Linked DNA regions of Homo sapiens. The protein of the gene in region 1 interacts with the protein of each later gene in a biochemical or structural test. Each region holds a gene or a part of one and is shown in the gene's direction. Other genes may lie near its edges.

The links.
Region 2: the proteins of TXNIP (region 1) and ECD form a complex in vitro, tested with the Homo sapiens proteins (one study listed by BioGRID).
Region 3: the proteins of TXNIP (region 1) and SLC2A1 form a complex in vitro, tested with the Homo sapiens proteins (2 studies listed by BioGRID).
Region 4: the proteins of TXNIP (region 1) and WWP1 form a complex in vitro, tested with the Homo sapiens proteins (one study listed by BioGRID).

Annotation. Positions count from the first base shown.
Region 1 is NC_000001.11:145,993,510-146,002,282, reverse strand, and holds the start of TXNIP (thioredoxin-interacting protein), read left to right. Parts: upstream 1-5,703; 5' UTR 5,704-6,016; coding exon 6,017-6,266; intron 6,267-6,538; exon of another isoform or gene 6,539-6,721; coding exon of another isoform or gene 6,722-6,806; coding exon 6,807-6,879; intron 6,880-6,991; coding exon 6,992-7,139; intron 7,140-7,251; coding exon 7,252-7,354; intron 7,355-7,482; coding exon 7,483-7,739; intron 7,740-7,845; coding exon 7,846-8,002; intron 8,003-8,115; coding exon 8,116-8,267; intron 8,268-8,396; coding exon 8,397-8,432; 3' UTR 8,433-8,773. UniProt on the Homo sapiens protein: May act as an oxidative stress mediator by inhibiting thioredoxin activity or by limiting its bioavailability.
Region 2 is NC_000010.11:73,150,390-73,158,823, reverse strand, and holds part of ECD (protein ecdysoneless homolog), read left to right. Parts: intron 1-2,168; coding exon 2,169-2,256; intron 2,257-2,370; coding exon 2,371-2,549; intron 2,550-4,375; coding exon 4,376-4,568; intron 4,569-6,402; coding exon 6,403-6,531; intron 6,532-7,118; exon of another isoform or gene 7,119-8,434. UniProt on the Homo sapiens protein: Regulator of p53/TP53 stability and function. Inhibits MDM2-mediated degradation of p53/TP53 possibly by cooperating in part with TXNIP. May be involved transcriptional regulation. In vitro has intrinsic transactivation activity enhanced by EP300.
Region 3 is NC_000001.11:42,947,837-42,956,270, reverse strand, and holds part of SLC2A1 (solute carrier family 2, facilitated glucose transporter member 1), read left to right. Parts: intron 1-8,434. UniProt on the Homo sapiens protein: Facilitative glucose transporter, which is responsible for constitutive or basal glucose uptake. Has a very broad substrate specificity; can transport a wide range of aldoses including both pentoses and hexoses.
Region 4 is NC_000008.11:86,463,750-86,469,640, forward strand, and holds the end of WWP1 (NEDD4-like E3 ubiquitin-protein ligase WWP1), read left to right. Parts: intron 1-3,044; coding exon 3,045-3,144; 3' UTR 3,145-4,754; downstream 4,755-5,891. Other genes in the region: RMDN1 (regulator of microtubule dynamics protein 1), read right to left, coding at 4,927-4,958. UniProt on the Homo sapiens protein: E3 ubiquitin-protein ligase which accepts ubiquitin from an E2 ubiquitin-conjugating enzyme in the form of a thioester and then directly transfers the ubiquitin to targeted substrates.

The DNA of each region.
Region 1 (8,773 bases):
GCCTACAATACCTCCAAACAAGTTAATTCAGCCCCTCTCCCCATCTTGCCATGACATTGGACAATACTGAGATCTCTATCCTTTGCTTATCATGGTAGAAAAATTGATCTCAGTAAACACGAAATGTGGGCCTCCAGATGAGATATTTTTAAAAGTTAAAACTAAATTAACAAACAAGATTGGACATGGTGGCTCATATCTATAATTCCAGCACTTTGGGAGGCCAAGGTGGGTGGATAGCTTGAGCCCAGGTGTTCCAGACCAGCCCAGGCAACATGGCAAGACTCCATCTCTACCAAAATATATGAAAATTAGCCCGGCATGTGCCTGTAGTCCCAGCTGACTCAAGAGGCCAAGGTGGAAGGATCACCTCAGCCCTGGAGGTTGAGGTTACAGTGAGACATGGTCATGTCACTGCACTCCAGCCTGGTGATGAAGTAAGACCCTTTCTCAAAAAAAAAAATTAGCTGAGTATGGTGTGTGTTCCTAGTAGTTCCCGCTACTGAGCTATGCTTGTGCCACTGTACTCCAGTCTGGGCAACAACAAAATAAACAAATAGATAATAAAGAGAATCCTGGGTTTGGAGAGTGGCTCCACCAGATACTAGCTTATGTCCCAGGTCAAGTCACTTAACCAAAATAAGAACTGGTTTTAAAAAAATAAAAGACTGCTACAGTCCCATTTAACTCTAAAATTCTCTGAGTCTTGCCCTGAATCCTTTATTAGACTATTGTGAGAATCAAACAAGATACTGTGTATCAAAGCACTGAGAGCCAAGACAACACATTTTTATAGTACATACTTTTAGACAGACATGGGCGGGTTCAAGATCTTGCTCTACTTACAAAATCTGTGACCTCAGGCAAATTACTTCACTTCTGAGCCTGACTGAACCAACACCGAGTCACAAGGTTATTGAGAGAATTAAATGAAACAATCTAACCTCAAATACTTTCTTTTTTTTTTTTTTTGAGACGGAGTCTCGCTCTGTCGCCCAGGCGGGAGTGCAGTGGCGCAATCTCGGCTCACTGCAAACTCCGCCTCCCGGGTTCACGCCATTCTCCTGCCTCAGCCTCCCGAGTAACTGGAACTACAGGCGCCCACCATCACGCCCGGCTAATTTTTTTTGTATTTTTAGTAGAGACGGGGTTTCACCGTGTTAGCCAGGATGGTCTCGATCTCCTGACCTCGTGATCCGCCCGCCTCGGCCTCCCAAAGTGCTGGGATTACAAGCGTGAGCCACCGCGCCCGGCCAACCTCAAATACTTTCTAGAACAACATGACAGATGACAGATAATTATCACTGACATAATTATATAAAAGACTTGGTTCATTATAGGTGCTCAATAAATGGCAATTACTTAAAAAGTCACTTGGAACTCTAACATGCTATACAATTCTTTTTTTTTTTTTGAGATGGAGTCTCACTTTGTCGCCCAGGCTGGAGTGCAGTGGCGAGATCTCGGCTCACTGCAAGCTCCACCTCCCAGGTTCACGCCATTCTCCTGCCTCAGCCTCCCGAGTAGCTGGGACTATAGGCGCCTGCCACCACACCCGGCTAATTTTTTGTATTTTTAGTAGAGACGGGGTTTCACTGTGTTAGCCAGGATGGTCTCAATCTCCTGACCTCGTGATTTGCCTGCCTCAGCCTCCCAAAGTGCTGGGATTACAGGCGTGAGCCACCGCGCCCAGCCTTTTTTTTTTTTTTTAAAGAGAGATGGGGTCTCACTACAATGCCCAGGGTGATCTTCTTGAATTCCTGGCCTCAAGTGATCTTCCCATTTCAGCCTCCCAAAGTGCTGGGATTACAGGCATGAGCCACCACACCTGGCTTACAATTGTTAATTTATTCTTATTGATCTATGACTTGGGGCAGTCTTCAAACTCTTAATTTGCCTCTAAATTCCTTAGGGAAAAAATTGAAAGGGAAAAGGGTGCCTATAATCCCAGCACTTTGGGAGGCCGAGGTAGGCGGACTGCTTGAGCAGGAGTTTGAGACCAGCCTGGCCAACATGGTGAAACCCCATCTCTACCAAAAATACAAAAATTACCTAGGCGTGGTGGAGCACATCTGTAGTCCCAGCTACTCGGGAGGCTGAGGTGGGAGAATCACTTGAGCCTGGGATGCGGAGGTTTCAGTGAGCCAAGTGACACTGCATTCCAACCTGGTTGAGAGTGAGACCCTATGTGGAAAAAAAAAGAGAGAGAGAAAGGAAAATGGGTAAGGGTAAAAGGGAAGTTTACAGAGTAGAGGTGAGAGAAGTGATTAAAAGGACCAAGAAAGGGCTTTGTTCTGCATTAAGAACTATGAGTCTTCATGTTCTAAATGTTTGTCAGGCCAGAGGTTAAAGAAAAGAGAAATGCAATCAGTGTCTTGTCTCTGACTGGCAACAAAGTGCTGAGGGCACTTCCCTCCCTGAAACTGCTGGCTTTATTCTGTCACCTGCAGTAAAGCAAACAAACAACAATCACCACTTGGTTTCCTGTTGGCACTGGGACTGAAGAGGGTAGAGAAGGGGCAGATAAAGATGATCCAACTTGCAAAACTCTTTGACTGTGCCCTACTTTGCTGTTCCTCCTTGGCCCACCCCTTTTCCCAAACCTCACAAGTGTTTTTATACCCTGATTTTAGGACAAGAGTTTACAAAATTTCTTTCTTCTTAGACCCAAGAACTGGGAAAGGAGAATCGGGGCAGGTTTTTATCAGAATACCAGGTTACAAGGTGAAAGGTCGTAAACAACCGTGTCCAGGAGGACTCCACTTCAGAACATGCCTTGGCTACAGGCCTGGTAGGCAGCAGCTGCTGCCAAAGCTAAATAATTTTTTGGCATTTAAAGGAACCCAGGCATAACACAGAGCAACGTAGTCTGTAGTGAGCTCTGCAAATGGGAAGATACAAGGAAACCAGAGCCCAGAAGAGAAACTTAGAACGAGAGAATTGTCATAGGATTTTTTAAAACTCAGCAATTCAGTACTTCAGAGATGTGCCCACATAAATATCAAATAAATTGAAAGGGAAAAGGGTGCCTATAATCCCAGCACTTTGGGAGGCCAGGTAGGCGGACTGCTTGAGCAGGAGTTTGAGACCAGCCTGGCCAACATGGTGAAACCCCATCTCTACCAAAAATACAAAAATTACCTAGGCGTGGTGGAGCACATCTGTAGTCCCGGCTACTCGGGAGGCTGAGGTGGGAGAATCACTTGAGCCTGGGATGTGGAGGTTTCAGTGAGCCAAGTGACACTGCATTCCAACCTGGTTGAGAGTTGGATGTCTTAAGATGTCCCATATTACCACCACCCTGATCCATCACTAGCCACCATCTTTCCTATTCCCTCAAAATGTATGTAGTTAAGATTTAACAATATTTAACAATATTGACTATGTAGTTAACAATATTGATTCATATATTTGTCAGCATTTTGATGTTTGATAGTTACACTTTCATACCCATCAAACTAAACGTTCTCCCAGAAGCCACAATTTTGAACTTTTAAAATTACTTCAGTCAGGCCAGGCACGGTGGCTCACGCCTGTAATCCCAGCACTTTGGGAGGCCAAGGCGGGTGGATCACCTGAGGTCAGGAGGAGTTCAAGACCATCTTGGGCAACATGGTGAAACCCCATCTCTACTAAAAATACAAAAATTAGCTGGGCGTGGTGATGCATGCCTGTAATGCCAGGTACTCAGGAGGCTGAGGCGGAGAATCGCTCTAACCCAGGAGGCAGAGGTTGCAGTGAGCTGGGGTCAGGCCACTGCACTCCAGCCTAGGCAACAGAGCAAGATTCCACCTTAAAAAAAAAATTACTTCAGTCAGAGTTCCACCTCCTCTGCTCCCAGTAACTCAATCAATATTGTTAACCAACTGAAAACACCTCAAGCCTAGCTGGTTAAGTTTCTAGAACAGGGTGCCGCCTCAAACACACCCTAAGGATCAACATGTTCCTGGGGTTTAATGCATGTGTGTGTTTTCGAAGAGACTCATGATGCCTATTCTTGAGCTTGCTTAATATTGGGGTTGAGTTGTAACTCTCGTTAGCCTTAGAGTGTCAATCCAGCTAGGCTGTCTGAGGAAGGAAGAAGGCTCTTTAACAGCAATGAATATTGTTTTTTTTTTGCTGATTGGGTAGGGTTTCAATATACTTGAATGCTTCTTAATTACCTCCCCATCTCAATCTTGGGACATTATCTTCCTCTTTCCAGCACAAGGAATTAAATAATAATCTTCTGATACCCCAGCACAGATATAGGAAGGGTCTATGAATCAAATAAAAGGAGGAAGAATCCCTGCACTTTTGCATACAGGTTTTTCCTATTACATTTAAGAGTAAGTTCTCAGTACTCAGCTCCTAAAGCATCTCACAGCCAGCAGGGGAAAATCCATCTGACAGCTGGCCAAACGAAACCAACAAAGAATGAAGAGAGAGGGTAGGGTCTCTTCTGGCTTGAATTTATAGTGCTCTGTTGACCGATCTTTCTTCTCTTTTCCTTCTTACTGTTTTCTAAACCGTTTAGGGAAAAACCTTTGAAAATAGTTTTTAAAATTGTTCCTTCAAACAGGTGTGTGGCCATCTCTCCACTGAAAATTTGGATATAAACAAGAGGACTTTCTCACTTTTAACCAGATTTATGGATGTACATTTGATTTAGTGAGTTGGAAGAGGGGATGGAGACAAGAAAGAGTGAACATAACTGGAAAAAAGTGAAAAGAGTGAAGCATCCTTTTTTTCCCGCTTTTCCTTTTCCTCCAGAAGCAGGTAGGAAGTGGGAGATAATGAGCGCCTGGACACACCTCACTAAAGAGGTAATGAGGTAAATGGGGAACACAGACAAAGTGTTCCCCAACTTTGCAGGTAGAAATTGAAGAGATGACAGGATAAGCAACAGGATGTAAACACGCCCCTCCTATTTCCGTTCCACAGAACAGAGAGAACAGAAGAGAGGGTACAAGCTGGGGGTGGGTGACGAACAGCACAGGCACGCAGCCCCCAGCCCTAGCCCCAAGGGATTGGAACGGGAAGGAGAAGACATCGGTCCTACACACACAATGAGGCCTGAAAGTTCTCCTTTCCCTCAGAGACGGTGGTGTTTTTTATACTTAATAGGGATGCGGGGCAAGAGAAGGACAAAGGGCTGTTCCTGAACAGTAACACCAAGCATTCTGCGCTCCACAGCCCCAAACCTGAAAGTATTCTTGGAGCTATGGGATTTTCACACACTTGCTATTTATGAGCCAGGAATAACGACAGGCTCTAAAGTAACTGCACTGGCTAAGACTAGGCATGAAATTCCCTCATAAGCACATTTTCCTTTTACCTCAAAACACCGCTCTCAGACCAGAAACGTCCACACCCGCCCTCCGATGGCCTGTCGCCCTGGCTAGGTTTTAGGGTCAGTGGGATCCTCCTTCCACTGGACCCGGGAGAAGACGCTCAACAGCCCCCTCCTTCCCCTCCTTCCTCTCCTTCCTCTCCTTCCCCCCTCCCTGCGCCGCTCCAGAGCGCAACAACCATTTTCCCAGCCAGGAGCACACCGTGTCCACGCGCCACAGCGATCTCACTGATTGGTCGGGCTCCTGGTAAACAAGGACCGGGCAGCCAATGGGAGGGATGTGCACGAGGGCAGCACGAGCCTCCGGGCCAGCGCTCGCGTGGCTCTTCTGGCCCGGGCTACTATATAGAGACGTTTCCGCCTCCTGCTTGAAACTAACCCCTCTTTTTCTCCAAAGGAGTGCTTGTGGAGATCGGATCTTTTCTCCAGCAATTGGGGGAAAGAAGGCTTTTTCTCTGAATTAGCTTAGTGTAACCAGCGGCGTATATTTTTTAGGCGCCTTTTCGAAAACCTAGTAGTTAATATTCATTTGTTTAAATCTTATTTTATTTTTAAGCTCAAACTGCTTAAGAATACCTTAATTCCTTAAAGTGAAATAATTTTTTGCAAAGGGGTTTCCTCGATTTGGAGCTTTTTTTTTCTTCCACCGTCATTTCTAACTCTTAAAACCAACTCAGTTCCATCATGGTGATGTTCAAGAAGATCAAGTCTTTTGAGGTGGTCTTTAACGACCCTGAAAAGGTGTACGGCAGTGGCGAGAAGGTGGCTGGCCGGGTGATAGTGGAGGTGTGTGAAGTTACTCGTGTCAAAGCCGTTAGGATCCTGGCTTGCGGAGTGGCTAAAGTGCTTTGGATGCAGGGATCCCAGCAGTGCAAACAGACTTCGGAGTACCTGCGCTATGAAGACACGCTTCTTCTGGAAGACCAGCCAACAGGTAAGCGGCCCAATTCATTGTTGGAGGGTGAAAGCTGATTAGAGAAGAGAATTGAATACACAAAACCTGTACGAAATGTTTTAAGTTGCTCAGTTTGAGTGGTTTGAATTACGTGTTGTTGCTTCCTTTTTTCTGTTTTAATTTGCAGACATTCTCCTCCCCCCCCAAAAAAAAGGGTGATTTGTACAATTTTTTATGGTGCTGTGTCCTAAAGGGGATCCTGAGGGGCGTTGCCTCGGGTAGTTAAAGTCTTATGTGTGCATAAGTTGCTTATTCTTTGTCTACTTCCTATTTGAGATGTTAGTAGAGAACTGTCCTGGGTGAATCTTTCAGTATTGCAGGGCTTGGCAACTTGCTGCCCGACAAAATACATCAGAATTTCTCTTTAAGAACAATATGGGATGGATTAAAAAATATATATATGGGATGAAATTGGGGGTACTTCAATACCTTGCATGCCACCCAAGCATTCCTTATCACACAGATGCATTTTAAGTGTAACAGCAAGCCTAATGGCTACTCGATTTTCTTTCCCTTCAGGTGAGAATGAGATGGTGATCATGAGACCTGGAAACAAATATGAGTACAAGTTCGGCTTTGAGCTTCCTCAGGGGTAAATATCAGCTAAATGCATCTTTGAACTTTTCTGTCTAAAATATCTTGCCCTCCTTTGATCACTTACTGTTCTTGGAGAGCGTTTTAAAATTTTCATTTTCTTGACACAGGCCTCTGGGAACATCCTTCAAAGGAAAATATGGGTGTGTAGACTACTGGGTGAAGGCTTTTCTTGACCGCCCGAGCCAGCCAACTCAAGAGACAAAGAAAAACTTTGAAGTAGTGGATCTGGTGGATGTCAATACCCCTGATTTAATGGTGAGATCCATTTTAAAGATTCTATTCTCCTGGGTCATGAGGATGATAAATCAGACGTCTTGGGCATTAGATTGAAGCATCTCAAAACACCTTTTTATCCCCTTCTATATAGGCACCTGTGTCTGCTAAAAAAGAAAAGAAAGTTTCCTGCATGTTCATTCCTGATGGGCGGGTGTCTGTCTCTGCTCGAATTGACAGAAAAGGATTCTGTGAAGGTAAAATCCTAGTGCTTATGGCAGTTAAAACAGGAACTGGGTTTAGGGGCAAGGGCATGGGACTGGGGTAGAGGAAGTGTCATTAACTATACTGAGTATCAGTAAGTTTTCATCTTTCTCATTGCTAGGTGATGAGATTTCCATCCATGCTGACTTTGAGAATACATGTTCCCGAATTGTGGTCCCCAAAGCTGCCATTGTGGCCCGCCACACTTACCTTGCCAATGGCCAGACCAAGGTGCTGACTCAGAAGTTGTCATCAGTCAGAGGCAATCATATTATCTCAGGGACATGCGCATCATGGCGTGGCAAGAGCCTTCGGGTTCAGAAGATCAGGCCTTCTATCCTGGGCTGCAACATCCTTCGAGTTGAATATTCCTTACTGGTGGGTAGATGCAGGGTGGCTTCAGCAGAGAAATTGTTCATCTGTTACCACAGCTGTCTTGTTTCTCCAGACCTCTGGTGTAATAAACTGCCATCTTCCTTTCTAGATCTATGTTAGCGTTCCTGGATCCAAGAAGGTCATCCTTGACCTGCCCCTGGTAATTGGCAGCAGATCAGGTCTAAGCAGCAGAACATCCAGCATGGCCAGCCGAACCAGCTCTGAGATGAGTTGGGTAGATCTGAACATCCCTGATACCCCAGAAGGTGAGCCAGACCTAATGTCTTTTCTTTGTTTCTGGTCTACCTGGGTTTGTAAAATTGTGATGGTCCAGCATTTCTTGGGCAGGATTCTTATGTGGCCATATTTTCTTTTCTAGCTCCTCCCTGCTATATGGATGTCATTCCTGAAGATCACCGATTGGAGAGCCCAACCACTCCTCTGCTAGATGACATGGATGGCTCTCAAGACAGCCCTATCTTTATGTATGCCCCTGAGTTCAAGTTCATGCCACCACCGACTTATACTGAGGTGAGGATTGTCATCTTTACTGTTAAATTTGTCCTAAGCTTTCTATAAGAAGTTGACTTAGACGGATTGCTAAACTGGTTTGTTCTTTTTGTTCTTACCTGAACTGAAATAGTCTGTTTCTTTCTTTAGGTGGATCCCTGCATCCTCAACAACAATGTGCAGTGAGCATGTGGAAGAAAAGAAGCAGCTTTACCTACTTGTTTCTTTTTGTCTCTCTTCCTGGACACTCACTTTTTCAGAGACTCAACAGTCTCTGCAATGGAGTGTGGGTCCACCTTAGCCTCTGACTTCCTAATGTAGGAGGTGGTCAGCAGGCAATCTCCTGGGCCTTAAAGGATGCGGACTCATCCTCAGCCAGCGCCCATGTTGTGATACAGGGGTGTTTGTTGGATGGGTTTAAAAATAACTAGAAAAACTCAGGCCCATCCATTTTCTCAGATCTCCTTGAAAATTGAGGCCTTTTCGATAGTTTCGGGTCAGGTAAAAATGGCCTCCTGGCGTAAGCT
Region 2 (8,434 bases), on another chromosome or scaffold:
TCAAGCCATCCTCCTGCCTCAGTCTCCCAAGCAGCTGGTACTACAGGCACATGCCACTGTGCTCTATTTTATTTTATTTTATTTTTTTGAGACAGGCTCTCACTCTCTTGCCCAGACTGGACTGCAGTGGAACAATCTCGGCTCACTGCAACCTCTGCCTCCCGGGCTCAAGCAATTCTCTTACCTCATCCTCCTGAGTAGCTGGGGCTATGGGCGTGCACCACCACACCTGGCTAATTTTTGTATTTTTTGTAGAGACAAGGTTTCACCATGTTGGCCAGGCTGGTCTCAAACTCCTGACCTCAAGTGATCCACCTGCCTCAGCCTCCCAAAGTGCTGGGATTACAGGTGTGAGCCACTGCGCCCAGCCTATTTTTAAAATTGATAAATAAAAATTTTATATATTTATTATGTATAACATGTTGTCTTGAAATACATATATATTGTAGGATGGCTGAATTGAGCTCATAACGTACATTACTTCACATACTTATTTTTTTGTGTGTGGTGCGAACATTTAAAATCTACTGCCTTAGCAAGTTTCAAGAACACAATACATTGTAGGCCTGGGGCGGTGGCTCACATCTGTAATCCCAACGCTTTGGGAAGTCGAAGCGGAAGCATCACATGAGGTCAGAAGTTCGAGACGAGCCTGGCCAACATGGTGAAACCCCATCTCTACTAAAAATACAAAAATTAGCCATGTGTGGTGGCCCATGCCTGTGGTCCCAGCTACTCGGGAGGCTGAGGCAGGAGAATCACTTGAGCCCAGGAGGTAGAGGTTGCAGTGAGTGTGATTGCACCACTACATTCCAGCCTGTGCGACAGAGTGAGACTCTGTCTCAAAAATAAAATAAAATAAAATAAAATAAAATAATAAAAATAGAAGTATAGAGCTAGAACGATATATAACAGTATATAAAATATGCCATGTCTTGTGTAAAAAAGGGAGAAAATACAAGTATATATTTCTATAGTTAGATTATGTGTAAGCAAACTCTAGAAGGATATACAAGAAACAGCAGTGATGCATGTAGGGTTGAGCAGATAGGGACAAAAGTAGGAGGGAGACTTTTTTATTTTGTAACTTTTTTTTTTTTTGAGATGGAGTTTCGCTCTTGTTGCCCAGGCTGGAATGCAATGGTGCGATCTCGGCTCACCGCAACCTCTGCCTCCCAGGTTCAAGCAATTCTCCTACCTCAGCCTCCCGAGTAGCTGGGATTACAGGCATGGGCCACCACGCCTGGCTGATTTTTTTTGTATTTTTAGTAGAGACGGGGTTTCTCCATGTTGGTCAGGCTGGTCTTGAGCTCCTGACCTCAGGTGATCCGCCCACCTCGGCCTCCCAAAGTGCTGGGATTACAGGCGTGAGCCACTGCACCTGGCCATGTAACTTTTAATACATTTTTTTAAAAAATGTAACCATGTGAATGTATAACCTATTTTAAAAAATTAAATTTAAAAAAGTGATACGGGCCGGGCGTGGTGGCTCACACCTGTAATCCTAGCACTTTGGGAGGCTGAGGTGAGCGGATCACTTGAGGTCAGGAGTTCGAGACCAGCCTGGGCAACATGGCGAAACCCTGTCTCTACTAAAAATACAAAAATTAGCTGGGCATGATGGCGGGCACTTGTAATCCCAACTACTCAGGAGGCTGAGGCAGGATAATTGCCTGAAAACAAGAGGTGGAGGTTGCAGTGAGCCGAGATCATACCACTGCACTCTAGCCTGAGTGACAGAGCGAGACTCCGTCTCCAAAATAAAAAAAAAAAAAGTGATGCAAATGAGGCAGAAATAATTATCTTTTCAGGCCCAAATAACACCTCCTACATGAAGGCTTTTCTAATCTCAGCTATGTGTTTCTTTTTTTTCTTTTGGAACCCTATAGTACTTTCGTATATTTTCATATTTTTGTCTAATATTTCTTTATGTAAATTGCTTATCTTCTCTCCTTATCATATCTACCTTCAACTCCTCCTTACAATCTTACAGTCTCCTTCAGTGCTTAATGTTATCTTAAATATTTTGCTTTCTTATAGCCATCTGCACATAGTACATACTCAAATATTTACTAAGATGAAGAGGAAAATGTATTAGAATGAAACTGTTTTGGTTACTAGCAGATATATGCTTTTTGAATGCAAAATTGGAAATTTTCTTGCATTAGGATTGAAGACAATGATGGTGAATTCTTGTTAATAGAAGCTGCTGACTTTCTCCCTAAATGGCTGGATCCTGAAAATAGCACCAATAGGGTAAGTATACCCAAGTTTAGAAAATTTATAGAGATGAAATCATGCTGCATTACATTCATATGTACCTGCAGTTTGCCAGTGCCCACTGTGAAAATTGAAATGTACCGTTTGCAGGTATTTTTCTGCCATGGGGAATTGTGTATTATCCCTGCACCAAGAAAATCTGGAGCAGAATCTTGGTTACCCACCACACCCCCAACAATTCCACAAGCATTGAATATAATCACAGCACATTCAGAAAAAATACTTGCTTCAGAATCTATACGAGCTGCTGTGAATAGGCGCATCAGAGGGTAAGAAAAATATCACTTTCATTGCTAATTAAGGAACCTTTTGGTTTCGTGTAGTTCAGTCTTTCTTTGATTTTTGTTTGTTTTCCTTAAAGCTCTGTTGGAGTTGATCAGTCTTTCTTTGACTATAAAATACCTTTCACCTAGATTAATGCTAATTTTCATTTTGTCTTCATTCCTCTTTATGAAATAGACTAGTAAATTAAACTTACAGATTTTAAAATCAGGAAACAGATACATCTTTAAATTCCCATTCAGAAGTGTTACAATCTTGTCCCAATATTTTTGCATTTATTTACCTTAGATATTGTGGCTAAGTATTAGCTATATCCATGGGTAAAAAATTTGAGACCTTTAAAAATAGAAACTTCATGGGCCTGGAGCGATGGCTCACACCTGTAATCCCAGCACTTTGGGAGGCTGAGCAGGGGGCGGATCATGAGGTCAGGAGTTCAAGACCAGCCTGGCCAACATAGTGAAATCCCATCTCTACTAAAAATACAAAAACAAAATAGCAGGGCGTGGTGGCAGGTGCCTGTAATCTCAGCTACTTTGGAGGCTGAGGCAAGGAGAATCGCTTGAACCCGGGAGGCGGAGGTTGCAGTGAGCTGAGATCACGCCACTGCACTCCAGCCTGGGCGACAGTAGGAAACTCCATCTCAAAAAAAAAAAAAAAAAAAAAAGTAGAAACCTAATGGAGCACAAACAAGGTGCTCAGGTTTTTTCTGTTGTTCTGGGTCTGTATATGGGATTCTTTGACCTATGTCAGAATTCAGTTTCTGAATAAAACTTTAGCTTTTATTCAGAAAAGAAAGGTCTTAGCCTAATTACATATTCGTTCATCCATTCAAATTTGGGTGCCTATTAAATATTAAGCACCATTCAGGTATTAACAATATTAAAAATATTTTTGGCCGGGCGCGGTGGCTCACGCCTGTAATCCCAGCACTTTGGGAGGCCAGGGCGGGTGGATCACAAGGTCAAGAGATCGAGACCATCCTGACCAACATGGTGAAACCCCGTCTCTACTGAAAATACAAAAAATTAGCCGGGCGTGGTGGCAGGCCCCTGTAGTCCCAGCTGCTTGGGAGACTGAGCGCAGGAAAATCACTTGAACCTGGGAGGTGGAGGTTGCAGGGAGGTGGAGGTTACAGTGAGCCGAGGTTGCACCACTGCACTCCAGCCTGGCGACAGAGCGAGACTCCGTCTCAAAAATAATAATAAATAAAAAATAAAAATCTCTTTTAGCTTCAGCATACTTTGTACCATTCTTTTAGAAGAATAAACTCTGATTTTATCTTTATTCCAAAGTATAATAGGTATTTTTGTTTTGTTTTGTTTTTGAGATGGAGTTTTGCTCTTGTCGCCCAGGCTGGAGTGCAGTGGCGTGATCTCGGCTCACTGCAACCTCTGCCTCCCGGGTTCAAGCGATTCTCCTATGTCAGCCTCCCGAGTAGCTGGGACTACAGGCGTATGCCACCACGCCCAGCTAATTTTTTGTATTTTTAGTAGAGATGGGGTTTTACCGTGTTAGCCAGGATGGCCTCAATCTCCTGACCTCGTGATCCACCCGCCTCAGCCTCCCAAAGTTGTTTTGTTTTTATAGAGCTACAATAATCCCTTTTCTTTATTTTCCATTTCTTCCTACTTTTTTCTTTCCCTCTCTCGTATATTCTTAAGTGTATATACAGTATCTTTTTTCATCTCTCTTGTCACTCTCTACGTACTGCTCTTGATGAACAAAGAGATGTCAAAAAGAATGTGAATGGTATAAGAATTATAGGTATTTATATACTGTAAAATGAAAGTAATTATGTTACCTGTCCCAGGTACCCAGAAAAAATTCAGGCCTCACTTCATCGAGCACACTGCTTCCTTCCAGCTGGCATTGTGGCAGTGCTAAAGCAGCGCCCCAGATTGGTGGCTGCAGCAGTCCAGGCATTTTACCTACGAGACCCTATTGACCTGCGAGCTTGTCGTGTTTTCAAGACATTCTTGCCTGAAACACGAATAATGACATCGGTGAGATTTCTATCTTGGTCATTTAGTTTCTCTTACTGGAAACCGAGTTGAAACATTATTATTTTTTTCTTTTTACATTTCTCAGTGCTCAGTGAATGAAACATTATTTTAATTGTTCTCTAGAAAAAAAAGGAAATATTCTGTTTCTTCATAGCATGTTAATATAGATTGAATATTCCTTATCTGAAATGCTTGGGACTAGAAGTATTTCAGATTTCAGATTTATTTGGATTTTGGAATATTTGCATTAAACTTACTACTTGAGCATCCCAAATCTGAAAATTCTGAAATCTCAAAACTTTGAGCATATCGTTGGGACTCAAAAAGTTTTGGATTTTGGAACATTTTAGATTTCAGATATTTACATTTGGGATGCTCAAACTATACACGTTTTTTCTTTTCTTGCACCCAGTGAAGGAAATTTTCAAGAGACCTGCCTCCCCATTTTATACTCAATGTTTTATAGCTATTTTTGACCATATGTTTCTATTTCTATAATTATTTCCTTTTTTTTTTTTTTTTTTTTTTTTGAGACAGAGTCTCACTCTCTCACCCAGGCTGGAGTGTAGTGGAGCCATCTCAGCTCACTGCAACCTCTGCTTCCTGGGCTCAAGCGATTCTCCTGCCTCCCGAGTAGCTGGGATTACAGTCACCTCCCAACACGCCCAGCTGATTTTTTTATTTTTAGATGGTGTTTCGCCATGTTGGCCAGACTGGTCTCGAACTCCTGACCTCAAGTGATTCACCCACCTCAGCCTCCCAAAGTGCTGGGATTACAGGTGTGAGCCACCGCACCCAGCCTAATTATTTCCTTCTTAACAATAAAACATTTCATCTCTTCCAGAGAATTAAGAATTATTCTTGGCCGGGCATGGTGGCTCACACCTGTAATCCCAGCACTTTGGGTGGCCAAGGCAGGTGGATCACTTGAACCCACGTGTTTGAGACCAGACTGGGCAACATGGTGAACCCCATCGCTACAAAAAATAAAAAAATTAGCTAGGTGTGGTGGTGGGCGCCTGTAATCCCCGCTACTTCGGAGGCTGAGGTAGGAGGATTGCTTGACCCCAGGAGGTTTGGGAGGCCAAGGTGGGCAGATCACCTGAGGTCAGGAGTTTGAGACCAGCCTGGCCAGCATGGTGAAACCCTATCCCTGAGGCTTCAGTGAGCCATGATTGCTCACTGCACTCCAGTCTCTGCAACAGAGCAAGACCCTGTCTCAGAAATAGAAAAAATGAATTATCTTTATCTTCCAGCCATTTAATTGCTGTATAATGTAACTAATGATAAGAATTTTACTAGCGATTACTAAAAAGTAGGCAGTAGGGTAAAATTTTTTTTGCAACAGTGTCTTGCTCTGTTGCCCAGGCCGGAGTGCAGTGGAGCAATCTCAGCTCACTGCAACTTCCTCCACCTCCCGGGTTCAAGCAATTCTCCTGCTTCAGCCTCCCGAGTAGCTGGGATTAGAGGCGTGCGCCACCATGCCTGGCTTATTTTTGTATTTTTAGTAGAGATGGGGTTTCACCATGTTGGCCAGGCTGGTCTCAAACTCCTGACCTCAGATGATCTGCCCACCTTGGCCTCCCAAAGTGTTGGGATTACAGGCATGAACCACCATGCCTGGCCAGCAGTAGGGTAAATTTTATGGTATGTGAGTTGTATCTCAATAAAGCTGTTACTAAAAACAAGTAGGCAATGAATAGGTTGAATCTTCTTTGCATTTCATATGAATATGAAGCTTATAAATGGACTTCTCATTATATTTAACTGTGAAGTGTTATTCACAATCTTAATTTCAGGAAAAGACTCATGTATTTTGTGTCTTGATGCCCAGGTCACATTCACTAAATGTCTATATGCACAATTGGTGCAACAAAGGTTTGTGCCAGACCGGCGGAGTGGATACAGGCTGCCTCCTCCATCTGATCCCCAGTACCGAGCCCATGAATTGGGCATGAAATTGGTAATGTTGAACCAGAAAATGTTGTTTCCTTTCTTTATGTAAATGGACTCTTAATAGAATAGTGGCACAATATACAAAGTCCAGAAATACACCCTGTTTATGTAAGAATGCAGTAAAATGTGGCATTTCAAATTAGAATGAAAAAAATGGATTACTTAGTAAGTGATGATGGGACAAGTCTGAAGTCATCTGAAAAATTGAAGTTGATTCCCTAATACCTATACCAAAATAAATTCCAATTGGATCAAATATTTGAACATAAAAATTGAAACTATACAATTTGAAAAAAAACCAAGAACCTTTTATAATTTGAATAGGAAAGGCCTTTCTATGCATGACTTGAAACCAGAAGCTATAAAGGGAAGACTGATGAATTTGATTATGCAAAAATTAAGCATTTCTGCACGGGAAAGAAAAACTCCATAAATAAAGTCAAAAGCAAATCTGGAAAAAGTGTTATATTTGCAATCTAAATGAAAAAGAGCTGACTTCTCTAATACATAAAGTGTTCCTTTAAGTCAATATGAAAATGATAATACTAGCCAATTAATTTTAAAATGTTCAGAACTATGAACATAGTCCACAGAAAAGGAAATACAGGTGACCTTTAATTTAAACATATGAAAAATATTGAATCTTAACTCATAATAAAAGAAATGCACTTTAAAGCTACAAAATAGTGTTTTTCTTTTTTTTTTGTTTGCTTTCAAAAATGTTACAATCTAGACATTGATAGGAATGTCTAGATTTTCTTTTTTTTTTTATTATTATGCTTTAAGTTTTAGGGTACATGTGCACAACGTGCAGGTTTGTTACATACGTATACACGCGCCATGTTGGTGTGCTGCACCCATTAACTCGTCATTTATATTAGATATATCTCCTAATGCTGTCCCTCCCCCCTCCCCCCACCCCACAACAGGCCCCGGTGTGTGATGTTCGCCTTCCTGTGTCCGTGTGTTCTCATTGTTCAATTCCCCACCTATGAGTGAGAACATGCGGTGTTTGGTTTTTTGTCCTTGCAATAGTTTGCTGAGAGTGATGGTTTCCAGCTTCATCCATGTCCCTACAAAGGACATGAACTCATCATTTTTTATGGCTGCATAGTATTCCATGGTGTATATGTGCCACATTTTCTTAATCCAGTCTATCATTGTTGGACATTTGGGTTGGTTCCAAGTCTTTGCTATTGTGAATAGTGCCACAGTGAACATACGTGTGCATGTGTCTTTATAGCAGCATGATTTATAATCCTTTGGGCATATACCCAGTAATGGGATGGCTGGGTCAAATGGTATTTCTAGTTCTAGATCCCTGAGGAATCGCCACACTGACTTCCACAATGGTTGAACTAGTTTACAGTCCCACCAACAGTGTAAAAGTGTTCCTATTTCTCCACATCCTCTCCAGCACCTGTTGTTCTCTGACTTTTTAATGATCGCCATTCTAACTGGTGTGAGATTACCATCTCATTGTGGTTTTGATTTGCATTTCTCTGATGGCGAGTGATGATGAGCATTTTTTCATGTGTCTTTTGGCTGCATAAATGTCTTCTTTTGAGAAGTGTCTGTTCATGTCCTTTGCCCACTTGTTGATGGGGTTGTTTGTTTTTTTCTTGTAAATTTGTTTAAGTTCTTTGTAGATTCTGGATATTAGCCCTTTGTTAGATAAGTAGATTGCAAAAATTTTCTCCCATTCTGTAGGTTGCCTGTTCACCCTGATGGTAGTTTCTTTTGCTGTGCAGAAGCTCTTGAGTTTAATTAGATCCCATTTGTCAATTTTGGCTTTTGTTGCCATTGCTTTTGGTGTTTTAGACATGAAGTCCTTGCCCATGCCTATGTCCTGAATGGTACTGCCTAGGTTTTCTTCTAGGGTTTTTATGGTTTTAGGTCTAACATTTAAG
Region 3 (8,434 bases), about 100 Mb from region 1:
CGGCTGTATTTTTAAATTCATGCACATGCAGTTTGATACTAACAGATGATATGCCTTCATAAAATAGAAATTTCAAAAGACAGATAGATACAAGACAGCAGTTATAGTCATTTTCCCCTCCAAATCTTGTGTAGATCATTCCATATACATTCTGGAATAAAGCCCTTCCCTTTGGAGACTGCTGATTTGACCTGCAAGCACAGCCTTTTTGTGCATGATGTTAGAGGCCTGGGGAGGTCATATCGCTTGCCTTTCACACAAGATCTGAAAACCAGGTGTGTCTGGCTCCAAAGCCTTGGTTCTGCTATGTTCCTCTTTGTCTCCTAGGAAATGGGAACTGACTTAACTAACTTCCCCGTGTTCCATTGTGCTCCTCTGTAACTCACAGTAATGAGCTTAGCTGAATAGGAAGTAGGGGACAGATGGAATCACCTTGCCTACAAGCCAGGGGTTCGCCCACGATCTCTCCTGGGCAGCACGCAAGGGTGAGCCCTGCCCCAGATGTCTCACCCCACCCTTCGTGAAGAACTTGTAACTAGCCTTGCCTATGCCCATCACTCATCACTTTTCTGGCCAGTCTCTACCTTCCAGAAAAGGAAAAATCAGAAATCTGCAGGCTTTCTCAGCCCCTTTGTGGTGCAGACAGCATAGTTTTTTGTTTTTTGTCTTTTTTTGAGACGAGGTCTCACTCTGTCACCCAGGCAAGTATCTTGGCTTACTGCAACCTCTACCTCCCAGGCTCAAGCGATTCTGTCACCTCAGCCTCTTGAGTAGCTGGAACCACAGACATGCGTCACCGTGCCCAGCTAAATTTTTGTATTTTTGGTAGAGACAGGGTTTCGCCATGTTGCCCAGGCTGGTCTCGAACTCTTGAGCTCAGGTGATCCGCCCACTTCAGCCTCCCAAAGTGTTGGGATTACAGGCGTGAGCTACCGCACCCGGCCAAACATAGATGTTTGCATATGTGGTTTTGAATCCCAGCTTAGCTTAGTTGCCCAGTTTTCATCATTACAGTGTCTAGGAATTCAGAAAAGAATGTACGTCTCTGTCCCCATAGATGCTCCATAAATATTTCTTGCTTCCTTGGACTCCCATGATGCCTTACCTGGGCTGTGGGTGACTTGTACCTGGGCCTTGGCCTTTATCCAAAAGCTGGCATTCTGGCAGTATGAGCTTTTGGGGAGTCAGGATGCTGGCCCATGGGTATTAAGTCAGGTAAATCATTAAAGCTCCCACTAACCCATTCTTCCTAGTAGGGGCTTGTTGGGAAGTGAGTAGGCATGGCACATGGGTGAGAGTGCCAGGCCAGGGAGGGTCAGCTCATGTGAGTGCCCTGCGCTGCTTTGGGCTTCTTTGCTTTGCTTTTTTGCCTTAGGCTTCCTGCCTACCTTTCTGAATTTGGGTCACCCTTGGGATAGTTTGAAAGGGACATTCATGTCCATTAACTCCAAGGGTCCTCACAACTGCCCTGTGATACAAGTTACAGTGACCTCATGGTCCAATAAAAAATGACTTTGCCAAGATCACACACTGAGCCTCCCACCCCAAGACATGCTGCCAGCCTTTCCAGGATGACATTAGAGGGTGGAAGGAACCCAGAGCAGGAGGGGCCTTCCAGCCATGGCCCAGCCCTCCATTTGACAAATGGGGAAATTGAGTCCAGAGAAGGGAAGAGATTTGTCCGAGATAAGGCTATCACAAAAGATTTGAGGCGTTCTATGGAGCTGTGTTTTGTTTTGATTTTTGAGACGGAGTTTCGCTCTTGTTGCCCAGGCTGGAGTGCCATGACACAATCTCAGCTCACCACAACCTTCGCCTCCCAGGTTCTAGTGGTTCTCCTGCCTCAGCCTCCCGAGTAGCTGGGATTACAGGCATGTGCCACCATGCCCGGCTAATTTTTTTGTATTTTTTTTTAGTAGAGATGGGGTTTCTTCATGTTGGTCAAGCTGGTCTCGAACTCCAGACCTCAGGTGATCCGCCCACCTCGGCCTCCCAAAGTGCTGGGATTACAGGTGTGAGCCACCGCGCCTGGCCTAGCTGTGTTTTTTTTTTAAAGATGCTTTCTTCTCCACATGCCTGTCTGTGCCATCCTCCACCCACCCCAAATGAGCAGGAATCCCCAGACACAGGACTTGCCATGCCATAGGAGCCTGAAAGTTGGATTAGACGTAACTTGACAACTGAAACTCTACTGTGAATGGAAACAAAACACTAGATGTTCCCACTAAACTCTGACCTTGAAGAAGTGGCTTTCCTTGGAGCCTTGGTTTCCTTCTCAGTAAATAGAGACTTGGCTACCCCCAGTGGATGTGGTGAGACTGGCCCCGTGCCCTAAATTAGAGAAGTGGCTATTTTAAGTGGAAAGACCCTTTGTAAGGCCAGTCTGGGTGTACAAATGATGTAAACAGCCCCAAGATGATCCTTGTCTAGTACCGAGCCATCCAGGGATTCGACCCTATTTGCCCCGGAGCTGGGCCAGCCTCAAATCCCCCGTAATCAGCTTGTGACTTCAAGGAGCTCAGCTTTGCCCAGTGCCTCCTGGTCACGGGGTGTCGGCCCAGAGCTCTGCTCAAGTACCAAGGGTACAGCCATCCAGCTCCCTGCTTCCCCAAGACTGGCAAAGCTGGGGAGGCCTGGAACAAAGAGGAAAGTGTGCAGTGTTGGCTTGGGGCCTGCAACCTCACCCCTTCCCCCACCTCACTCCTGGGCATAAAGGTGATAAAGCCGCTCACTCAGTCTGCAGTCTGGTAACCGACGTCCCCATGATGGCGGAGGCTGGGAGGCCTCCTGACCAGATTCATGGGCTCAGAGAGGCTGTGTCCAGGCCTGCAGGCCCAGCCCTGGCTACCCTAACAAGCCTCCAATTGTTACCTCTCTCCACGGGAGGGGTGGACTGGAGCCTGAGGCTCTGTCTTCCAGCCACCAGGCCTGGCAGTAGCTGATGCATAAACATTAGGGTTTTGCAGTAACTGAGCAGGGCTCCCAGGCCTTGAACCTGGGCAGAAAGAAGACAGCATCTCCTCTCTTTGTGACCACACTGACTTGCCTCCCTGAGGCTTCTGCACCCTGGAATGGGAGAGAGCTCTTGCCAGGCCTCAGCTGATGGAGCCTTTGGCTACTGAGGCCTCTGCTGGACAGGAAGTCTGCCTATGTCTCCTAGCCCAGTTTATCTCCCCCTGCCCTGGCATTTGGGAGTGGGGAGGAAACGGCTCCATCAGAAACAGCTCTACCATTGGACCTTAGGCCAGCCACACTTCTTGTTGGAGCTTGTGTCCTCAGCTGTACTGGGGATGAGAGCTAGCTGTCTGGGTCAGCGGCACTGAGGCTCCAGGGGAGCATGTGGTCTGTGCAGCAGGCTTGGGGAGTGCTGAGCAGCACAGATTGGGTTTCATAGCACAGTGGGAGCCCAGACAGGCCAGCTAGCCATAAGCACCTCTGCTGGAGGAAGAGGTGGACTCTCTTGGGCTGGAGGGCCCAGTTCAAGGAAAGAAACAAACAGCTACACTGGGCTCCTTGATCACCCAGCTGTGGCAGTTCTTCTTGAGGACTTCCTGCCCCTAGGTGGGGGCTGCCTTCAGCTCCCTGCTGCGTGTGATAACTTGGGTGTGGCCCTCACAGCTGTGCAGAAGCTATTCCCAGAGGGTTCTGGCCCCAGGTAAACAGATTCTGCTCTGGGCTCGCCTTGCCTCCATCCCACAGCCCTGTGTGCTGTCTGTGGCACAGCCTAGAGCAGCACTGCCTCGTGGCCCTGGCCCTTATGCGGCTGGAGCTGATCCTGAAGTCCAGTGTCCCAGCGGTCATGGCTGGCATCATCACCATCTACAACCTGGTGATGGAAGTCCTTATCCCCAACTCGCTGATCGACTGCATCAGCCTCTACGGGAATCTCCTCCAGCCAAGCGCTAGGCTGAGTGTGGGCCTGAGTGGCCCGGCAGCCAGCTATGTCATCAGCACTGTGGGGGACACAGTGCTGCCTAGAAGCCCGGGCTATTTGTGGGCTTGATCCTGATCCTCATTTTCACTGCATGGTCTCATTCTCTCCACAAAGTAGCCTTTGAGCCCACCAGCCACAGAATGTGATATAAAGATCACCCCTGCTTATTCCAGAATGAACAGCCTGAGACACATATCCCTTCAGTAGTTGGTCTTGTGAATGCAGTGTCCTAGTGCAAATGCCCATCATCTGTTGACCCCATCCTTGCCCCTGCCTGCCCCATGCTGTGGATATCTGGGCCCCCTCATCACCCATCCTGGCCCCCTGACCAGTGAGGATGCCCCCTCCCATCTAGGGTACTCTGCGTCTAAGGATGAATTCCAGTGTAATTTTCTCTCTTCTGTAGGTTTATTTATGGAAGATTGGACCTGTTCATACATCTGTGGGGCAGCCCTCCATCTCCCAGCTATATAAAGTCTCTAACCACAGTGTTGCATTGTGGGGTTACCATGTGGTCTGACACTTCCTTGCATGAACTACCCTCACTCCAGCCCTGGACAGTCCAGGGCCTAGCAGGCAGTGTGTGGGGCCTACCAGGTCCTGGCATCCAAGCTGTGTCCAATAAAGTTCTTAGATGTGACTGGAAAAAAAATTGGATTAAAAAAAAGCTTCAGAAGTTACAGAGCCAACTACAGAGAAGCATAATAAATGAAAGAGTGTCTTCTAGTTTTGACAGTTTGGTGTTTACCCTAAAGACTTCTCTTTGTGCATGTGTAGATACATGCCTATAAATAGAATATTTGTGTAGTTGGATCCCACTTTCTGCATAGTTCTTTGCAACCCATTCTGTTCACCAAACCAACCCTTAGAGGTAAATACTGGCAGTGTTTCTCTCTGCACATACAACCAAGTGCCACTATACAAGTTCACTAACTCCCTGTTCCTTACACAATATGTACATCCTATTGCTTTTTTTCCCCCCTGAACAATCTACCCTGGTACTCTTCATAACACATACATGTTATGTGAAACACAGATGTGTTTCATTCTTTCCAATAGCTGCATAATACTTCATTACAGGCATGTCCCACCATGATTAAGAAATAGCAGCCCCATCACCTTCTTCATACCACTCACCACCTGATGTATTACATGTATTTATTTTCTGCCCCAGCCTTCAACTAACCTATCAAGTTCCATAGGCAGGGATTTGGTATAGTTTTATCGCTGAATTTCCATTGACTAGAAGAGTGTTGGGAGCATGCATTCAGGCATAATCTTTCCTTAGCAATATCATTTATTCATAGAAGATCCTCTCTTATGGAGAATTAACTGAAGCTTAGAGGAAGAGACTTTTTTTTGAGACGGAGTTTCACTCTTGTTGCCCAAGCTGGAGTGCAATGGCGCGATCTCGGCTCACTGCAACCTCTGCCTCCCGGGTTCAAGTGATTCTCCTGCCTCAGCCTCCCGAGTAGTTGGGATTACAGGCGCGCGCCCCCCACGCCCAGCTAATTTTTCGTATTTTTAGTAGAGACGGGGTTTCACCATGTTGGTCAGGCTGGTCTTGAACTCCTGACCTCAGGTGATCCGCCCACCTCAGCCTCCCAAAGTGCTGGAATTACAGGCGTGAGCCACCATGCCCAGCCAGGAAAGGACTTTTTTAAGGTCACACAAGTGGAGGAGCTGGGACTTAAATGTGTCTGCTGAGAGTGACAGTGAACTTTGCATGTGCCCAATCTTACCAAATTAATGTTCTCTTAGTTGAATTATTGCCCATCTCACCACCAAATGTGTATCTTCTCAGGGGTGTCAGTTTCCCCAGGGTCCAGATCCTGGCCCCACACCCACACATGGCCAAGGAGCCATTTACATTTAACATTCCATAATAGGATGCATACCTTTTCGGTTATTTAGGGAGGATGTGGTTTTGCCTGGAAGGCTTTGAGAATGCTGGGCAGCTAGCTCAGGGGACGTGGGGCTTAAAGCAGAGGCCGATCAACTTTTTTCTAAAGGGCCAGATAGAGCGTAAATATTGTCAGCTTTGTTGGACATGTAGTTCTCGGCCTGCCACTCAGCTTTGCTGTTGCAGTACAAAAGCAGCTGTAGACAAATGAGTGTGGCTGTGTTCCAATAAAACTTTATTCATGGTCACTGAAATGTGAATTTAATATAATTCTTACATATCACAAAATATTAGTCATTGTCTTTTTTTTCTCCCCAGCTACTTAAAAATGTAAAACTCATTCTTAGCTGCCATAGTTTGCCAACTTTGGCTTATAGCAAATGCAGCAAAGTGGCCCAAAGGTTTCTGAGCCTGTGCCCGGGCTGTCTCAGCTCAGAGTGGGCAAGGCTCAGAGAGTTGCTTTTATGGAATTTGACCTACATAGAAAGCACCAGGTAGAAACCTTGTTTCCTTCAGGGACCAGTACCCGGAAACAAGGGGGAGGACCTAAGCAGGAAAGCCATAGAATTTGGCATCAGAGACCCCCAATTGGAAACTTCCCTGAAGCCTAGAGTCCCCTGGTTCTGCGCTTTTCCCTCTCTCTCATTTCTCATCTGTGAAAAGGGAGTAATCGCTCCCCAAAAGCTTGTTCATGGTGGTTAATCAGAATGTGTGAGCAGCCTCTGGCAGGGTGCCTCAGCTCGCTGCTGCTGCTGCTGCTAAATGCACCAGCCCCCTCCTCTCAGTTCTACTTTGAAGACTGGCGAGTGCCTTCTGCCTCGAGGGCAACCAGGGGTGTCTGGAGGTTCAGTCATGCAAGGGTCTTGATATCATTGGAAGGCTTAAAGGAAGTGGCTTCAGGAGCACTTAATGCTTGAGGTCACCCTAAGGTCAGGTTTTGGACTGTTAGTCCATCACTCTTCTTTTTTAAAAGGCTTGGCAGGATGGAACCGGTCAGAGGGTAGAATGCCAGGCTAGGAAACCAAACAACTCTAGTCCCAACCCTGGCTTTTGTTTGTATGCTAGGCTGGGCACCTGCCCTCTGACCTCAGGTGCCTCCTGTCAAGTGCCGATGTTACAGCAGTCTGCAATTTCTTGAGCTTCTTTCTTTCTTATTGCAGCCAAAGCTGTCTTATTTTTTTTTCTTTTGAGAGTGTCTCACTCTGTCGCCCAGACTGGAATGCAGTCGTGCAATATCTGCTCACTACAACCTCCGCCTCCCAGGTTAAAGTGATTCTATTCTCCTGCCTCAGCCTCCCAAGTAGCTGGGATTATAGGCATGTGCCACCACACCCCACTAATTTTTGTACTTTTTTTTTTTTTTTTTGAGACAGAGTCTTGCTCTGTCGCCCAGGCTGGAGTGCAGTGGCGCGATCTCAGCTCACTGCAAGCTCTGCCTCCTGGGTTCAAGCCATTCTCCTGCCTCAGCCTCCCGAGTAGCTGGGACTACAGGCATGCGCCACCATGCCGGGCTAATTTTTTTTTTGTATTTTTAGTAGAAACGGGGTTTCACCGTGTTAGCCAGGATGGTCTCGATCTCCTGACCTCGTGATCTGCCCGCCTTGCCTCCCAAAGTGCTGGGATTACAGGGGTGAGCCACCGTGCCCGGCTCCAACTTTTCTATTTTTAGTAGAGACAGGGTTTTGCTGTGTTGGCCAAGCTGGTCTGGAACTCCTGGCCTTAACCAATCCGCCCGCCTCGGCCTACCAGAGTGCTGGGATTATAGGTGTAAGCCACCGCGCCCAGCCTTGAGGTTCTTTCTTTTAATGCCCAGAAGTTCATTTAAATGAGTAAGAAACACAACAAAACAAATTAAAAGGGAGCTGTCATGGATTCAGGTAAACCCCTCCCCCACTCCTTTGAGCCGTGGACTAAGCAGTTGGAAAGCCCTGCGTCCCCTGCTTCCCTGCACCTGGGGAACCCATGTGGGATGCTGTGGGAAGAGGACAAGATGGAGCAACATCTGGAGTCTGCCAGCCCTGGGACCCTCCTCTTGCCAGGAATACCCTGCCTCTGAGTAGCAGTAGCCACGTGCCCTTCCTGTGCCAATATAGATTGAGAACCTGCTGCAGGCCAACCCTGGGGCTGGAGCGCAATGCTGACACACTGACATGGGTCAAAAGGCCACAGTGTTTGGCAAGTTATACAATGTGGCCAGGGCCATCTGGCATCCGAGCGTTGGGGGAGAGGTCCTGAATCTTAACACCTCATCCATGGCTTCCTGGGAGAGGGAGGGCTCTTGTGGGTCGTGAGACCCCCAGCGGTGGGATAGGGAGGGTGAGGGGTGGGGACATGAGAAATGCTTCTCTGTGCTGGACCCTGAGCCCAGTTGCTGGCCAAGCTGGGAGGCCATGACTCTCCTAGGAGAGTCAGGATTTGAACTCAGTCTGCCTGACTTCAGAGGTCCTTCCTTGACAGCCCTGTGGGCTTGGAGTGGAGGGTTTTGTGGGGTGCTGTATTTACCTCTCAGAGCTCTGATGTTCCAGCACTCGTCAGGGGTTTGATAAATGGCTAAGGATGAACACTGGTCTGGCACAACAGATACTCACAGAGCCAGC
Region 4 (5,891 bases), on another chromosome or scaffold:
GGTAAAAGTTATTTTCAAAGTGCAAGACAGGCCAGGCACGGTGGCTCACACCTGTAATCCCAGCACTTTGGAAGGCCGAGGTGGGAGGATCGCTTGAGCTCAGGAGTTCGAGACCAGCCTGGGCAACATGGTGAAACCCCATCTCTACAAAAAATACAAAAATTAGCCGGGTGTGGTGGCACACACCTGTAGTCCCAGCTACTCTGGAGGCTGAGGTGGGAGGATCACTGGAGCCGGGGAAGTCAAGGCTGCAGTGATCCATGATCACACCACTGCACTCCAGTCTGGGTGACACAGTAAGACCCTGTCTCAAAAAAAACAAAAAAAAGATCAAAAAGTGCAAGAAGAGGAAACAGTAGATTTTGTATAACAAAGTACAAAGTGTTCTTTGACTTGATTTCAAACCCATATTGTGCATTCCCTTGTCAAATTTAGTATCAAAGAATAATATCCATAATTACCTGACAAGATGAGTAATCTCCATTTCTAACTATTTATCTGTGTGGGGCTATAGATTAAATGTACAACTAGATATCAAAATCCATATGTTTTCTATTACACCAGATATTTAAAAGATTTCCAAAACTAAAACAAAATCACTCTTTCCACTATTTTTTTTGGAAGTAGTTGGGTTTTTCCCATTAAAATGTTATGTTTATTTTCATATCAAAGTGAATTAATATTTTTTAAACTTCTGTTTTAACTTCTAATCCAGTAAATATCAGTAGCTATAATTCATATAAATAAAAGCTCTTTGCAGTTGGAAATCCATTTTTTTTTTCCCAAGATAGAGTCTTGCTGTGTTACCTATGTTAGAGTGCAGTGGCACAGACACAACTCACTGCAGCCTCAACCTCCTGGGTTCAAGCAATCCTCCTGCCATAGCCTCCTCAGTAGCTGGGACCACCAGTGCACGCCACTATGCCTGGCTAATTTTTTAATTTTTTGTAGGGACAAAGTTTTGCTGTGTTGTCCCAGGTGGGTCTTAAACTCTGGGCTCAAGCTGTCCTGCCTTGGCCTCTGAAAGTGCTGGGATTATAGGCATGAGCCACTGCTCCCAGCCAAGGTTGACAGTATTTTTAAGAGTGAAAAGGAGTCCTGTGACCAAAATTTGAAGACCTCTGCCTTCAATAAAAGTGATAGATCCATATGTATACACACATGCGCGCGCGTGTGTGTGTGTATTGAGAGAGAGATTTTTGAGTCAAAGGGAGAATTAAAATAGATTTCAAATTTTGTGAAAGGAAAGTAATTACCACCCACTGATTTCTGTTTTCTCAAAGTATAAGGAGAAGTCACTGGCTAAGAGTGAAGAAAGGAAAAACTTTTGAGAGAAAGAAGGAATTGGGAGAATTGTTAGAGAATAGGCAAGTATTCATTAGAGGAACACGGCTAAGATTGCTAGGCAAAATTGGATTGCTCACTTGGATTAGAGCATGAAACAAGTTGACAGCAAAGAGCATAAGCTTCCTTTCCCCACCACAGCCCCCTCCCCACCCATAGCAACTCGAAAGCAGCAAAAGTTTTTGAAGAGTGGCATAAACTGGTATGTCTTTTTAGCAAAAAGTAAAAAAGAAACAAAACAAATAGACCCAAAGAATTCTCTGATGGTCCAGGTAAGAGATGATGGGGAAGCATATACAAAGGGATGTAGTGGCAGTAGAAATGATGAGGAGGAGCCTGGGCAACATGACAAAACTTCGTCTCTACAAAAAAAAATACAAAAGTTAGCTGGCCATGGTGGCATGCGCCTGTACTCCCAGCCACTCCAGGGACTGAGGTGGGAGGAGGGAGGATTGCTTCAGCCTGGGAGGTCGAGGTCGCAGTGAGCCGAGACAGTAGCCTAGGCGACACAGCCAGACCCTGTCTCCAAATAAATAATCAGGAGAAAAAATGGAATATTTGGTAGATAGAATGACAGAATTTGGCAAAGGCTATATGTGAAAGATGTAAGAGAACAGAAAGTGACTGGTTGTCTTGTATAGGAAGTATTAAAAAATAATTTTTTTTTCTGACCTTGTTATCATACTCTACCTTGAAGTATAAAGGGGAGGGCAGTATATGGTCTGCTTAGTTGCTGCTATTAATATCTTTAACTTCATTTAAAATACAAAGAATACAGTCTTAGAACAGCACTGTTTTATTTAGATGCCTTGTTTCAAAGGCTCTTTCCTGACTCTGACATGGGAGGGTCAAGGGCACATGGAAAGTGGTGACAGTGGTAAGAAGGCACCTGGATAATCTCTAGAAACCTTCCACATGGGAAAATGAAGGTACAGAAGGGTTCTGACTTACTCAGGGCTATCTCACTAGTCACTGCTACTGTAGGGACCAAAACCCTGAACACCCGAATCCTAATCTAGCTACTCAGTGCTGTACCTCACAAAACGAAATGTTATTCCACCTTTGTAAACTGAAAAATAATAGTTATTTTAAGCATTTTTTAGTATTTTAAAATTTTTATCAGTTAATACCAGAATGGAATTGAGTATGGCAAGATTGAAAAAGTGTCATTTTAGAAGAGTTTATATATGTGGTTAGATTATTTGAAAAGACAAAGAAACATATATATTTGTTAATTGACTGTCTCTACCCCAGAATGTAAATTCCATGAAGACAGGGATTTTAGTTTTCTTCACTGTATCACTAGCTTATCAGTTATATAAAAAATTCTCGGTAAATGACTGATGAATGAGTGACTGAGTGGATGAAAGAAATGGACTCTTATCCTAAGAGAAGTTAAGAGGACTCATGACACATGTAACAGGAATAGTAAAAAGAAAATGGATTTTTTTTTTTTTTTAAATTTGTCTTTATCCATATTGCTACACTTATTATTTGTAATTCCATTTTCCTCTTGGAGATGTTAAAATAGTTTTTATATGTAAGTCTTAAATTTAGATTACTCTAAATACTTCTGGCAAAATTTTAACATATATAGTATACATATATCCATTCAGCATTTCTATGTGCTTTGAAAAGTATTCTATTAGATTTTTTTCATTTTATTGAAAACATCTGATTTTGTTTTTGTTTCTGTTCAGTTTTAATCGCTTGGATCTACCACCATATAAGAGTTATGAACAACTAAAGGAAAAACTTCTTTTTGCAATAGAAGAGACAGAGGGATTTGGACAAGAATGAATGTGGCTTCTTATTTTGGAGGAGCTCTTGCATTTAAATACCCCAGCCAAGAAAAATTGCACAGATAGTGTATATAAGCTGTTCATTCTGTACAGTGAATTTTCCGAACCTCTCAAAGTATGTTTTCCGTTCTTCCACAGAAATATGCAAAACAGTTCATCCTTTTCTACTTTATTTATTGTTCCCTTGAAATGACTGACCAGGAAAAAGATCATCCTTAAATTTTGAAGCAAGTGAGAGACTTTATTAAAAATACATATATATCTATATAAACATATATGATAGTGGCTCTAGTTTTATAGAGCTCCAAGTGTATTAAACATGACAGCCATTCATTCATAAAGATCTGGATTTGCTTTACCTTGTTAATATTATCTAGGGGAAAAAGTGCAAATTGCTCCATGTTCTTCTCTCCCTTATGTAACATCTCCTGAGGGTGTTTAGTTGCATGGCTGTTCAGAAAGGTATTAAGGGCTTAGGCCAAATCTTACTTTGAGTATGTTAAAAAAAAAAAAATGCTGCTGGCTTTTCTGAAGACAGGTGCTTGAACTTGTCAGTTTGTTTTAAATAAATACAATAGTTGAAAATTTTTCTCTGTTACATCAGTAATATTGTTAAAGTAATGGATAGAACCATAACTTACACATGAAAGTCATATACTAGATCCAATACTATTTAGTTTATTATCGAAATTGGAAGGATTCATTGAGCAGCATAGAAGTTTGTTTACATGTTACTTTGAGATGCTAGGTATTTGTGGAATTAAAAAGAATCAGGCTCTTTTGTACTTTGTTTTTAAATCTGTGATGCTTTTCAAATTTAATTCATAATAAATTGATGCAATTTCATACTTAGGAACATACAAAAGGTAATGTAAACTCTGCCACTTTTTTGTGTTCAAAATTTTGGTTTTTATGAAGCCAGATGGATTGAAGAGTTACATAAGCATTTGAATGCTCTAATATAAGGCTAATGATTTTCTGTTAGTGTTTGAATATCTTCATTCCTCTCAAATTCATAACAGTTCTATTTAACTGAATTAAATAACCATATGAAAAATCTTTTGGGTCTCCCCCTTTTTACACAGATAATTATTTTTGTCATAACACTTTTTAATTGTTTTTCATCATAGGGGCCTTTGCTGAACTACAAAAATGTGTAACAAATTAAAATCTGATGTGAATGATATTAATGCTACTTTTAGCAAACTGGGCTTCCTAATACAAAATTTTAAATTTCCATTTGTATCATGCTTTTAATATGCACTGTAAATTTCATTAACTTAAACATTTTTTAATAGCCATGGAACTGACTTCTTAAAATCTGTTGCCTATAAATATTTCACTGCTAAGTACATACAGAAAAACAGTAATTATTGTTTTGCCAAAATTTTATTTTTCTACATATTGAGAGTGTGTTCTCCATTTTATTCAGAATTCATAGTAAAGACGAAAGAAAGGCAGAGATCTGCTTGGTTGAATAGACTCCTTTTCCAAATCCTTATTATGAACACTCTGGTAATTTTCAAGCCTAAAGAATTAAAAAAAAAATTCTAATGTATGTGACAGGTTATGTGATAGAGGGAAACTGGCCTTCAAAAAGGACTGCGTATACCATAAAAGAGTTAAGTATTAGAATTACAAATGGTACCACTGCTGTATAAATTTTGCCATGACAGAAGTTATTGAATATCATTCATTGTAGGTATGATTTAGCAGATTTGACTGAAGAAGGCAGCTTTCCAGTTCGTTTTCAGGGTGCTGGTCTCCCTCAAGTAAGAAATTACGATGCACTAGGTGAGGCTACACAGAACCCTACAAGAGACAAAACCAGCTTTGTTTTGGAGAATTCATCAGGGTCTTCCACTTTTCATACCCAATTATAGATATCCAAGACCTACAGGCAGAGCTCTTGATTTATCTACCCAGTAGCAGTCAGAAAAACTGTAGAAATATGGTCCCCCACTCACCTTCTCCCCTTCTTCCCTTCCCATTCCTGTTCTGTGCTGGACTAACCGAAAGAAATTAGGAGTGCAAGACTCTCTGTGCCCAAAACACAGTTCATGAGGAAACAGACAAGAGGGAGGCTCAGAGACAGGTTTATATTGCTACTTCATTTTGGTGACTCCCCCACCCCCACCACCAGTAAATGGCCCAGGGAATAGCTCACAGGCCCAATACAATTCTGTCTGTTAGATCAGTTAAGCAACACAATTCTATCTGTTAGATCAGTTTAGTTGTTTGTCTTCCAGGGAAAGCAGCTTACCAGTGTTTTTTTTGTTTGTTTGTCCCGCCCCCCCCATGTACTTCCCAAGTAGTTGAAAATGAAAAGGTTAACAAAACCTTTTCCCCTGATGACTTCTGTTAACTACCTAGCTCTTCCTACCCTGACAACTAAATAGGATGGTATGTGTCAACTGTATTTATTGCCATGCAGCTTTGCTTTTGGTAAATATGACCCTGACTGGTAAGTTGCATCTGGACTGGGAAATCTCCAGATACACGACAGAAAGCCACAGCTTTGGGCATACCTGAGTGGAAAACTCTTGTAACTGTATGTCCTTTAAGGAGGACCGTGAGCTGTCACCTGGGGAGATACCATTTCATAGATTGCTGTTAGAAGACCGTCTTCTGAGAGGAGGTTCAAAATTGTCCTGCTGGTGAGCTGTGTGGTTCCTGTCCTATAGCCTTCTGAGTAGACTGGTGCCAAATACAGCCTATTGTAGACTTATTAAGTCTGAATGTTTG